2 linked regions of the Homo sapiens genome follow. Changing the gene in region 1 together with any one later gene gives a genetic interaction. Each region holds a gene or a part of one and is shown in the gene's direction. Other genes may lie near its edges.

Region 1 (4,952 bases):
AGTGGTTTGGGATGAGATTTTTTTTTCCTTTTTATTAGATAGAGTCTCGCTCTGTTGCCCAGGCTAGAGTGCAGTGGCACAATCTCGACTCACTGCAACCTCCACCTCCCAGGTTCAAGCAGTTCTCCTGCCCCAGCCTCCCAAGTAGCTGGGACTACAGGTACCCATCACCATGCCTGGCTGATTTTTGTATTTTTAGTAGAGACGCAGTTTCACCATGTTGGCCAGGCTGGTCTTGAACTCCTGACCTCAGGTGATCCACCTGCCTTGGCCTCCCAAAGTGCTGGGATTACAGGCATGAGCCACTGCACCTGGCCAAGATTGTTTTTCTTGAAAAGACCGGTATATGGAAGTAGACAGCTCTAGAGTATGTTAGGTGGCAGTGGGATATTATTTTGAGTTAATTTTAAGCTATAAGCAGCAATCCACTCATTTGGAAAATGTCAGAAGAATTAATTATAGATGCATAAAACCAAAGTAAATTAAATAAGATAAGCCAAACAAGACAATTACAAGTAATGTTAAGTAACACATCGAAGCAGTTGTTTTTGGATTAATACCACCTTTTTCATTAAATATAAATTGGAATTGGATTTATAAATTAAAGGGAAGTGGTTTCTCTAATTTTTTTTTTTTTTTTTTTGAGATGGAGTTTTGCTCTTGTTGCCCTGGCTGGAGTGCAATGGCGTGATCTGGCTCACTGCAACCTCCGCCTCCCGGGTTCAGGCAGTTCTCCTGCCTCAGCCTCCCAAGTAGCTGGGATTACAGGCACGTGTCACCATGCCTGGCTAATTTTTGTATTTTTAGTAGAGACGGGGTTTCACCATGTTGATCAGGCTGATCTTGAACTCCTGACCTCAGGTGATCTGCCCGCCTCGGCCTCCCAAAGTGTTGGGATTACAGGCATGAGCCACCGAGCCCAGCCTAGTTTTTTTTTTTAAATTAAGCTTTATCATAGGAAGTTGTTAAATTTTTAATAAGTACATTTCTGCTTCTCAGTTGATGTCATAACTTAGTTATATTCTTAGTAAAAAGCAAAGGCTTAAGGCTGGGTGTGGTGACTCATGCCTATAATCCCAGCACTTTGGGAGGCTGAGGTGTGCACATCACTTGAGTTCAGGAGTTGTAGACTAGCCTGACAATACAGCAAAATCCCGTTTCTACAAAAAAATACAAAAATTAGCTGGGTGGCATGCGCCTCTAGTCCCAGGTATTTGGGAGGCTGAGGTGAGATCATTTGAGCTTGGGAGGTCAAGGTTGCAGTGAGCCAAGATTGTAACACTGCACTCCGGCCTGGCCAACAGAGCGAGACCTTGTCAAAAAAAAATAATAATAAAATTGGCCAAGCACAGTGGCTCACTCCTGTAATCCCAGCACTTTGGGAGGCCGAGGTGGGTGGATCACCTGAGGTCAGGAGTTCAAGACCAGCTTGGGCAATATGGTGAAACCCCATCTCTACTAAAAGTACAAAAAATTAGCTGGGCACAGTGGCACTTGCCTATAATCCCAGCTACTCAGGAGGCTGACGCAGGAGAATCACTTGAACCTGGGAGGCAGAGGTTGCACTGACCCGAGATTATGCCACTGCACTCCAGCCTGGGCAACAGAGTGAGACTCTGTCTCAAAAAAAAAAAAAAAAAAATTATATAAAATTTTAAAAAAGCAAAGGCTTAAAAAGTTTTTAAGTATATATAGAAGATTAATGAACAATAGTTAACTTCCTAATGCTCAAATATTTTTGAATTTATTACATATTGTTTCAGGTTTGAAGATCAGCTTCAGCAATGGTTGTCTGAAGACTCAGGAGCATTTACGGATTTAACTTCCCTTCCCCTCTATCTTCCTCAGACTCTAGTGTCTCTTTCTCACACTATTGAACCTGTGATGAAAACATCTGTAACTACTAGCCCACAGGTGAGAAGAACGTATACATTTGGCATTTACATAAGAATTAAAGATTGAGAGAATGGCTGGGGAAAAAAGTAATATCACGATTTATCCTATGATGTTTTGATGACCGACAAATTATTAGCTCAAATTAGACCTTTTCTTAAACTTTATCCATATCATTGTTAAAGAGACCCAACTGATTTTGAGTTTCTGCCTACGAAATAAATGAAGAATAGAATTGAAATATTCTTAAGAACTGAATAAGACCTGTAACTGTGTGCTGATGTGTAATTAAGGGCATTAAGGTGATGACAGCAGCTTCTGTTGGAGCACATATTGTCTGAGCTTTGGCATTACCCAGACCTCTCTTCTGGGATTAATTTTTCCTGAGGAAAACTAATGAATGAGGAAGGTAAGCTCCCAGAAGTCAAGAGCCTCACCCAAGAGTGTTCAAGTAGTGAGTGGTCAGGTTGCTTTTCAAAGCCAGATCCAACTGGCTCCAAAGCCTAAGGTCTTTTTACCTTACCATTCTTCCTTCAGTGGTTAAAGATGCAAAAACAGAGTTTCAATCACAGATATGTGCCACTGAACAGGTAAAAACTGTGCTCCTGGACTGGCTTTAGGAAGTCCTTCAATAGAGGAGAAAAGCAAATTAAAATGATGTACTGTTTCCATTCATCAGTTTGGCAAATACTTTAAAAATATTCATACCCTTTGAATTACCAATTCTAACCTAAAGAATTCTGACCTACCAGATATTCCCCAAAAATTAATGTATAAAAATGTTTACTGTAGCATTATTGTATGAAAGTCGAAACAGAATAAATATCCGAAGATGGGAGTCTGATTAAACAATTATAACACATTCATGTGATAGAATAATTCACAGCCCTTGACGATGATATTTTCTAAAAATGACTGGCTGGGCGTGGTGGCTCATGCCTGTAATCCCAGCACTTTGGGAGGCTGATGAGGGAGGATCGCTTAAGTCCAGGAGCTTGAGTCCAGCCTGGGCAACATAAAGAGATCTCATCTCTACAGTACATAATTAGCCAGGCATGGTGCTACATGCCTGTTGTCCCAGCTACTCAGGAGGCTGAGCTGGTAGGATCACTTGAGCCCAGGAGTTTGAGGCTGCAGTAAGCTCCGATCATACCACTGCGTTCCAGCCTGGGTGAAAAATGACTGACACTGGAAATTGTTCATGATAGAATACAAAGGCAAACAGTCTATATACAGATACCAGCTGAATGTACGAGCTAAATGAGGCTGGAAGGATATACAAAGGATAATTTTTTTCCCTCTGTAAAAATAAATGACTACTCAGATGAGGTTTCTAACATGATCCAGATCTAGTACCTTCCCAGAGATAGGTCGTGGTTTATTGACATCCCAAAACTGTTCAGTTTCTTTTTTATTCAAATAGAGTGACATGATGAGGGAGCAACTGCAGCTGTCAGAGGCGACAGGAACGTGTCTAGGCGAACGACTAAAGCACCTGGAAAGGCTGATCCGGAGTTCAAGGGAAGAGGAAGTTGCCTCTGAGCTCCATCTCTCTGCGCTGCTAGACATGGTGGACATTTGAGCAGCCTGACCTGTGGGGAGGGGGTCTCTCCCGAAGAGTTTCTGTTTTTACTCAAAATAATGTTATTCTCAGATGCTTGATGCACTGTTGGAAATGTGATTAATTTAATCATGCAGATAAACCATTTAAATGTCAGTCTCCCAGTTTTTCATAATGAAAAGTTGTTTCCCCTGTGTGACCTCTTCAATATTCTCCTATATTCATGACCTCCTCAGATTGTCACCCACCAGCATATGCTCTGAGGCAGTTTAGAGCTTACATTTCCATGTATAAAAGGCGATTCATTCTCTCAGCAAACTTGCAGTCCTTGATGTGCCAGACATCAGTGATGCAGAGATAAAGTAAGACACAGGGCCTCTGCCTGCTAAGCCCACCCAGCTTACATCCAGGAGAGTCAGGTACTTATGTACATAATTCTCAGAGAATGTGCATGAGGCGTGGGCCTGAATTGGTAGCAAGGAAAAAACAGAGGATGGAACAGGGTCTGGTTGGGTAGAGGAGAAACAGAATTCCCGGAGAGGAGTGCAGGGGTGTAGCTGGAGACAGTGTACTTGAGAGGACATGATGAAAGCGTGGAGGTACCAGCTTGGTTGTGTGGCCAGGTGAGGGGAACAGGCCAGCAGGGTGAGGTCAGAGATTCTTGTCACCTTCTTCTGAGAGCTGTGAGAACCCGTTGTTGAAGATTAGGCAGAGAAGTGATCTGGTCACATTTTCTTTTAAGAATGGCATGTAGGGCAGGAATCTTGAGAGGTGGGTGCTGCAGCCATCCAGGTGAAATTCAAAGGGAATAAGCGTGAGTTTGTTAGCAATTGGTGTGAAGAGAGGGGATAAAATTTGAGCCATATACAGAAAGAGGTATTAATAGACTTGGTGATGTTGCGTATGACCACCAATCTTAAACTGGCACTCAGCATCTCCTGACTGTAATCCTACATCCCCAGACTCTATTTCATGTCTTCTCATTCTCTTCAAACCTCCAACATTCTTAGATCATGTCCTCCTTATTTCACTGAGAAAACAACAGCACTAAGAAGAGAACCTCTTCCTCCACCAAATCAATCCCTGCTTCTCCAAACACACACTACTCAACTCAGGGATCTTTAGTGATTAGCTTCATGTAAAGACTTAAATAATGCTATTTCTTAATCTTGACTTGACATTGTTGACTTCCTACAATGGAAGAGGAGTTAGCTTCTCTTACACTGTCTTTCCCACAACATATTATCACCCCCACCCTCGACACCCACATTTCCTCTCCTATTAGTCTCCCTAAGCAGTTTGATATTGGCTGAAACCTGCATTCACAGTTTAGTATAACTGTATGTTTACCATTTCCTGTTGAGCCCTTTATTGGTTTATGATTACATTTCCTTTAGGTACAACTTTTGATTTTTCCTGGAGTTAATTACATTGTTTTTCTCATTTGCTTGGTTTTCTATGCTCTTGTCACTACTTTACCCAAAAGTCGCTGCCCTAA
Region 2 (2,978 bases), on another chromosome or scaffold:
GAGGAGGAAACTGAGGTAAGGGAAAGTGAGAAGCAGCAGGATAGTCAGCCTGAAGAAGTTATGGATGTGCTAGAGATGGTTGAGAATGTCAAACATGTAATTGCTGACCAGGAGGTAATGGAAACTAATCGAGTTGAAAGTGTAGAACCTTCAGAAAATGAAGCTAGCAAAGAATTGGAACCAGAAATGGAATTTGAAATTGAGCCAGATAAAGAATGTAAAACCCTTTCTCCTGGGAAAGAGAATGTCAGTGCTTTAGACATGGAAAAGGAGTCTGAGGAAAAAGAAGAAAAAGAATCTGAGCCCCAACCTGAGCCTGTGGCTCAACCTCAGCCTCAGTCTCAGCCCCAGCTTCAGCTTCAATCCCAGTCCCAACCAGTACTCCAGTCCCAGCCTCCCTCTCAGCCTGAGGATTTGTCATTAGCTGTTTTACAGCCAACACCCCAAGTTACTCAGGAGCAAGGGCATTTACTACCTGAGAGGAAGGATTTTCCTGTAGAGTCTGTAAAACTCACTGAGGTACCAGTAGAGCCAGTCTTGACAGTACATCCAGAGAGCAAGAGCAAAACCAAAACTAGGAGCAGAAGTAGAGGTCGAGCTAGAAATAAAACAAGCAAGAGTAGAAGTCGAAGCAGTAGCAGTAGCAGTTCTAGTAGCAGTTCAACCAGTAGCAGCAGTGGAAGTAGTTCCAGCAGTGGAAGTAGTAGCAGTCGCAGTAGTTCCAGTAGCAGCTCCAGTACAAGTGGCAGCAGCAGCAGAGATAGTAGCAGTAGCACTAGTAGTAGTAGTGAGAGTAGAAGTCGGAGTAGGGGCCGGGGACATAATAGAGATAGAAAGCACAGAAGGAGCGTGGATCGGAAGAGAAGGGATACTTCAGGACTAGAAAGAAGTCACAAATCTTCAAAAGGTGGTAGTAGTAGAGATACAAAAGGATCAAAGGATAAGAATTCCCGGTCCGACAGAAAGAGGTCTATATCAGAGAGTAGTCGATCAGGCAAAAGATCTTCAAGAAGTGAAAGAGACCGAAAATCAGACAGGAAAGACAAAAGGCGTTAATGGAAGAAGCCAGGCTTTCTTAGCCATTCTTTGCAGCAGAAGATTTCTTGATAAAAAAGGATTACCTTTCCTTGTAAAGAGGATGCTGCCTTAAGAATTGCATGTTGTAAAAAATCTTTTTGGAAAATACAGACTGTTTGTTTACCAGACATTCTTGTACTTTTTGCATAATTTTGTAAGAGTTATTTATCAAAATTATGTGAGGTTCCAAAATATGTAAAAATGATAATAATAAAAAAAGATTAACATCCCTTGTCATCTTTTTTAAATATCCTATACTCTTCAGTAAGAATCTGTATATTTTAATAGGCAAATCTTTAAGTCTGTTCCCTTCTAATTCTGTATCATACATTGCTTTTGTAGAAATAAATGTGTGTTTATTTCATTATTTTTGGGATGTCCTCGTTGACACTTGTATAATAAATATCCTCTTTATCATTTTCAGCTTTTAACACTAGATACTGCACGTGATTAGAATGTTTTTGAAGGTTTCCTCGTTTTTATTTGCCTTGGACAGTTTTTAGTTGTCAGAGTCAGAGCTTTGCAGCTTTGAGGGGGAACAGTTCTCTTTAAAATCATTTGCTATTTTCTATTCTCCCTTGTTATTTTAATCTAAGCATTTTCCCCCGTTTCTCATATTTTAACCATATGTTCGGTAGATAACTAAACAGTATGATCTGGTTGGCATTTTCTTCCTGATGATGGGAGCGTCATTCTTTTGTCTTCATGGTTACTTGTGTGATATAACATACATCTGTTAAAGAAAATCACTTCTTTCTAGGGGAGGGAGGTAGAAAAGTATCTTTCAAACTTGGTTTTTGAGTTTGTGTCTTGTCTTAACTTTGTGTTGGCTCTAACTTAAACATGCTGATATGTGTTTTCAAGAATTTTGTTTAAGGAAGTATTGTATGGAAGTCCACAAAATGAAGGAAGTTCATCTAGGTTTTAATATGTAAGCAAGATAACACACAAGTGTACCAAGTGATTATTAACTTTGTTGTTTTACAAATTTGTATGAACTTGGAGTATCTGTTGGCCATTACTATACATGTGCAAATAAATGTGGCTTAGACTTGTGTGACTGCTTAAGACTAGTACTTGTATTAACTTTCTGATGCTTTATACAAGAGAGCACTTAAATTGCATCCTTCTTTGAGTTTAACACTGTAGCTTTAGCCTTGACTTTGAATATTCATTTTGCCTTCCCTTGACAAGTAAATGGTTACAGTGAAAATGTGAAGAAGTATTTCCAGTTAGTTTTTGTGTGTATATAACTCACTTGTGTAAGTGGATGTGTTAAAAGATCTCTTTTTAAAAATCCTTTTATTGGAGTAATTATTAAAACAGTAAATGCATAGAGCTTTGCACAGCAATCTGTATCCATGAGCCAGTTCCACCACTAGTACCTTCATCTGTGGCTTATCCAGCAAAATGTTTCATTTCCTGTGTGCCCTGGCAGGAAAGAGGTTGGTAAATAGTGAATTAAAGGGATGATCATAAAATTTAACCTGGTTAAAAAGCACCTTATTTGATGACAGTTTGTATGCACTAAAATCCTTTATACAAATTAAGTTTTGTCTACTGATTTGTACCTGGAAAATCTGAACAATATTCATGTTGCTTACAGAAAAGGCTAGTATTGGCTTGAAGCTCTACTATAGGAGGGGTAGTAATGGGGGTATAATGAATGCTTGAGGGGAAAGTAATTTTCAGTAATTTCAGTTAAGCGCTACTGATCATAGTATGTGAAAGGAATTTTTCTTATATGGAATGCTTGATGAATTTGCATGTCATCCTTGTGCAGGGGCCATTTTAATCTTTTTTTTTTTTTTTTTTTTTCTCGGAGACAGGGTCTTAGTCTGTCACCCAGGCTGGAGTGCAGTGGCACAAACAATCTGACTGCAGCCTCGACCTCCTGGGTT

Evidence for each region. A genetic interaction does not mean that the proteins touch.
Region 2: changes in MCM3AP (region 1) and PNN together harm fitness more than expected from each alone (negative genetic interaction), as found in Homo sapiens cells (one large-scale study listed by BioGRID).

The regions. Positions count from the first base shown.
Region 1 is NC_000021.9:46,233,791-46,238,742, reverse strand, and holds the end of MCM3AP (germinal-center associated nuclear protein), read left to right. Parts: intron 1-1,763; coding exon 1,764-1,914; intron 1,915-2,416; exon of another isoform or gene 2,417-2,519; intron 2,520-3,316; coding exon 3,317-3,475; 3' UTR 3,476-3,610; downstream 3,611-4,952.
Region 2 is NC_000014.9:39,180,808-39,183,785, forward strand, and holds the end of PNN (pinin), read left to right. Parts: coding exon 1-1,056; 3' UTR 1,057-2,413; downstream 2,414-2,978. UniProt on the Homo sapiens protein: Transcriptional activator binding to the E-box 1 core sequence of the E-cadherin promoter gene; the core-binding sequence is 5'CAGGTG-3'. Capable of reversing CTBP1-mediated transcription repression.